2 separate regions of the Homo sapiens genome follow, and region 1 is linked to region 2. Evidence: fine-mapped expression QTL. Tissue or cell type: nasal epithelium. Region 2 holds a variant in brackets; the other region holds the start of a gene. All regions are shown on one strand. Distances are between the middles of the regions.

Region 1 (2,500 bases), 280 kb before region 2:
GCCGGGAGGGTGTGCAGCGTGACTGCGGCGAGCCCCGACGCCCGAGAAGCGGGGACCTGCTCTCGGGGGGATTCTTTGGAGACAGCCTGGGCGCTGGGGAATCCGGCGGGTGGGGAGGACCCAGCTCGGCCCTTGAGGCGCTCAGGCCTAGTCCAGGCCATACAGGTGTGCAGGACAGGGACCAGCCACAGGCCGCACGCACCTTAATATGCAGTGAATAAAAAAGACCAGACGGACCTGGGGTTGATGACGCCATCTGAACAAAGCGTCCCCGCCCCACATACCGTTCGCCCCTCCTGAGTCCGTCTCGTCGGTGGGAGCAGAGCCAGGGAAAATCACTAAGGACTCTCCCCTCCAAGGCGAGGACTTGCCTGACCCGCTTAGGCAGCGCCAGCCTCCCAGGTGCAGGTGGCTTCGCCCTCCCCTAGCTGGAGTTAGGGTGTGTCCATGCTCTGAGTCCTGGACTCCAGGAGGTACTCACCGTGTCAGCAGAAGGACGCATGAATCTATTTGAGGTCACGTACCAAAGAGCTGCAGCGCCTGGCTCCTTAATGCAGAGGCATTAGGAAGCGAGTTGTCTACTTGCGATGAATGATGAAGGACTCCACTTTACAGAGGAAGAGAGAAAACCTTGCCGCAAATCAGTCACCTTCGGACTCCAACCTAATTGACCAAAGTTAGGTTATTGATGAGGTTATTGATGGGCTGGACACCAGTGAGCTGAGAACGAGCAGTAGTTAATCCCCAGTGTCCACAAAGAGCCTGATGGCCACTGTCCCTCCATGTCCCCTCCCGGCCCAGGAGTCAGCCAGGCACCTGGGCACCGTTCACTGGGTTTTCCTGCAGGGCTGTGTGGGGGTGAGCACAGGGTGGCCCCTCTCCTTCCCGAACCCTTAATTTCTTATTGTTATATGTGTCCTTCTCACAGGGGAAGCTGAACCCAGGATGAGCTTATTCAAAAATATGTTTTTCTATTCCCCTCAAAAGGAATTGGCAGTAAACGTGTTTCTCTTTTTTACTCTCTGGAATTTTATCTGTATCTTGAAATTCCTGCCAAAACCCACAATCTAAGGCGATGCATTATTTAAAAATCAACTGAATTTCAACTAGAAATGGAATGTGAACATTATAAAGCAGAAGCTACTCTTCAGCTCTTTTCCTGGTTCCCCAGAGAAACCAGGCAAGGAGATGATGTGGGGGTTGGTCAGAATCTGGGGGAGACAAAGGGTGGGCTTCCTGGGGCCTGTGCTTCTTGGGGCCAGTTAGCTGGGTGACCTCAGGAGACACCCGACGGTGTCTCAATTCTCTCACTGCTGAAAGAGGCGGGTGGGACCTATGGATTGTCCGTATCCCTTCCAGCTTGGATCTGTCATTCCACGGCTAGGTGCTGAGAGCCTACAGGTCCCACTTGGCAGCCTTCCGAGTTACCTGCTTGGGGAAGGTTTCATGATGCATGGTTTGCATCCTGTCCCCTGAGTAAAGGGTCTTCTCGTGAATCCCTCAGATCTTCTCGTACCCTTCTCCAACTGTCAACATACAGATCAATGTGAAAAAAGACACTGATTTATTTCTGTTTTACTTATTTATTTTTTGGAAATGGGGCTTTGAGCTGTGGCCCAGGTTGGAATGCAGTGGCACCATCATAGCTCACTGTAACCTCAAACTTCTGGCCTCAAGGGATCCCCCACCTCAGCCTCGAAAAACTCTGGGATTACAAGCATGAACCAGTGCACCAGGCCCTGATTTGTCTCTGAATCATGAAGTTTTGCCAGTTGTCTTGCAGATAGAATGCTTTAGCATGTGTTTGTGTTGTAATCTGAAGCTAATGATTGTAACCTCTTTGGGACACCCTGGTACCCTCCAATGGAAAGGACAACTCCAATGTAAGGAGTGCCCTCCCCTCCCTGCTCCTAAACTTTCTCATAGAACTATTCTGACCCTGGAACAATCCTCACATTTGGCTTCCAGTAAACCTTTCTCAAATTATTTCTGCCTCAATAGCCTTAATTTTGGCTGACAGTATTTAGCAGTTTAACTGCAATAGAGTTAAATTTTATACATTGTGTGTGTGAGAGGGGGAAGTGTGGGGATTTCAAGTCAGCAGACTTGCAGTCTTGGAGTGAGGAAGGCTTTTAAAATTTTGAACCCAAACCCAGATACATTAAAAAAACAATAAAATCAACCACACAAAAATCTTCTGAATGAAAAAAGACCCATAAAATAGTCATGACAAAAAAAAAAAAAAAACACCAAACAAACAAACAAAAGGAAAGGCATCCCAAATCAAGGGACTAATTTATTCTTTAATAAACAAAGAGTGCCTCCAAATCAAACAGAAAAAGATCAACAGAGAAAGAGGTAAAAATATCTATCTATCTATATATATATATATACACTAATGGCCAATAAACATGTTGATATATGCCCCATTTCATTAGAGGGTGCAAAGTTGAACCATGAGCTTTCTCCCATAGCTGTATTGACCAGGTACCTTCATATA
Region 2 (2,761 bases):
GACTTTGAAAGTGTTCTCCAAATGCAGTAAAAAGATATAGAGAAATCAAGAAAGATACTGAGAATTACAAGAAAAAAATCACTAATACCACAGTCTACTAAGATTTCAGTACAATTTGTTTATAGTAAGTTTTCTAGTTATTTGGAGTTTTCTGAGCTGAAGTACTGTACGTGATGTTTCACTGTGAGAATCAGAAGGTAGTTGTTCACCTCTGAGCTCGCTCAGCAGGATGTATGTGGCTTGCCAGCCTGTGGCATTCTAAAATATTTGAATTCATCACGTCTGCTTCTCTGACAGCGGCCAGACTGATCACCTCTGCCGGGATGCTGGTTCATAAATTCCAGCTACACACATCCTGTGTATTGAGTTAGGTACCAACCAGCCTTTCTGTCTCCTGAATGTAATAGGATCATGGGGATTATAGAGTAAACATTCATGTGAGCCTGGCTCTTGGTATCTATTTGGGATTATCAAGAAGTTTGGTCCATTAGAAAGAAAATAACCCATCCATCATAATTTGATTTAGAAGGATAACTTTATTAATGTGTGGTGTTTTGTCCCACTGGAAATATGAGAAAGAGTTCCTTATATTTGCATTTTAAATTTCTTTCCCATGTTCACCTGCTAAAGTAATAAGTTCAAAATTCAAATGGTAGAAAAGCCACTCAAAGCAGATAGATTTCTAAGAAAAAGGGAGATTTGGAAGATCTGGTGAGTCTGAATTCACTCTTCTTCCTCTAAGAAGTTCAGCACCAAGGTCAGTTCTGGGGGGGGCAGTTGCATACCTCCAAGCTCCTCCTGCCCTCGAAAAGTGAGATGAGAATAATTTGAAGAGTATTTAATAAGGGATGCTGGTGGATGACTGTGATCCAGCCCTAGCTTTTCTCTTCGGGGTTATCGTTAGAAGAGAGCCGTGATTCTGACCGGCTCTTGGGAAGAGCAGGATCCAGATTGCAAGGTGTGGACTCACATCTCTTACTCTTTGCAGTATTTCTGATCACAAGCATAGAGGTGTGGGAGTTCAGGCAGGCTGGTGGGAAAAATGTTAAAGATAGTTATAAGAAATAGACACAAACCTTCTTAGAAGGCTGTGGGGGTTGCATAACTTCAGTAATAGATCTGGCTGAAAGCAGCCTAATCCTCTTACCTTAAGTAAATAGCTTAAAGTAGATACAAATGAATGTAAGGGAGTTTATCTAAATAATTTGTTTACTCATGTGGTCCTAAAACTAACCCTTGATCATTTGTGGGCAGGGTGGCTCTCTCAGGAGGAGGGTGACCAGGTTAATTACACTCTAGTGGTGTTGACTCAAAGCTTTTGTCATTTAATGTGTGCT[G/A]AATAAATGCCAGCAGGGCCAGCGAGTCAGGGCCACAGCTGCTACAACTCTTTCAGTCAGCGGCCTGGCCCCCTAGCCCACTCTTTCACTGAATATCAGTGTCTGAGTACATTATTCATCTGTTGTGCAGCTGGGTCTGCGGGACGGACCCCCACAGAGAGGAAGTGAGGGGACTATTTAAAGATGAACAACTTCTGGGCTGAGATGGCTTTGTAGGACAGAGAGGGGCCTTAGATACTGAACTTGTTTCTGACCATTGTTGTTGTTCTTGCTTTCTTTTTTTTGAGATGGAGTCTTGCTCTGTCACCCAGGCTAGAGTGCAGTGACACAATCTTGGCTCACAGTAACCTCTGCCTCCAGGGTTCAAGCAATTCTCTGCCTCAGCCTCCTGAGTAGCTGGGATTACAGCACCCACCACCAGGCCTGGCTAATTTTTTGTGTTTTTAGTAGAGACATGATTTCACTGTGTTAGCCAGGATGGTCTTGATCTCCTGACCTCGTGATCTGTCTATGTTGGCCTCCCAAAGTGTTGGGATTTCAGGTGTGAGCCACTGTGCCCGGCCTGGACCATTGTTTTCAGGGCAACTTTACCCATAGTGCCAATAAATATTTGCTGAATGAATGATTAAATTGTCTAACGTTGCTCTCCCTCCTTTCTTTTTTGCATACACCAATTCACTTAAACAATATTTTTCTGAAGTCTAATACTACACATACAGAAAACTTCACAAGCATAAACGTTAACTGTAACCTATTATACTGTGAAACACAGCAATGAAACAACCTGTAACTGCTTATCAAATTCAGAAAGAGAACATTTCCAGCGCCGTGAAAGCCCTCCCTTGTGCCTTCTCCCCATTACTGCCCTCTCCACTCTCCTTCCTTACAAGCCACAAACATCCTGACTCTTATGATAACCCCTTCTTGGATTTTCTTAAGTGATACCTGGTAGGTACCATCACTAAACCCGATAGTAGATTTTCGTAAATGGAATTGATGAGTGTTTTATGTGATGCCTGGCTTCTTTGTTCGCCTCATGGGTGTGACACTCGCTTGCATTTTTGCACGTAGCCCCAGTTCTCTAATTTTCTTTGCTGTTTAGTATTCCACGCGTGAATGCAGAACAATTGGCTCGTCTTTTTATTGTTAGTGGAATAGATGCACAACATCTAGATGGTTGACATGGCTTTAGCTCTTGCAATGATGCCTCCCTGACTGTCACTCTGCATGATTCCTTGTCACATCTGCAGGTGCTTCTGTTGGGAGTACACTGAGGCTGGGCTCCCCGGGTCAGGCATGAGGGCATTGAACAAACGCAGATGAACACACATTTATTTAGGGACATATGGGTACTTTTCTTGCTCAGGATCTGCCACTTCGCACTGGCACAGCATGGCCCATAACCCATAAACCCATTACCTCAT

What was found. PIP is the estimated chance that this variant, and not a neighbour inherited with it, causes the effect.
Region 1: LINC01018 starts here. The variant in region 2 is the best candidate, but not a certain one, in a credible set for the expression of LINC01018 in nasal epithelium (TOPMed, PIP 0.84).

The regions. Positions count from the first base shown.
Region 1 is chr5:6,580,583-6,583,082 of GRCh38, reverse strand. It overlaps LINC01018 (long intergenic non-protein coding RNA 1018), which reads right to left and starts at 947. Exons shown (of 5, transcript NR_024423.2): 1 at 817-947; 2 at 482-663.
Region 2 is chr5:6,300,894-6,303,654 of GRCh38, reverse strand. No RefSeq gene overlaps it. Among named protein-coding and RNA genes, the nearest start is that of LINC02145, 35 kb to the left of the region's middle. The variant G/A (reference allele first, on the strand shown) is at 1,338.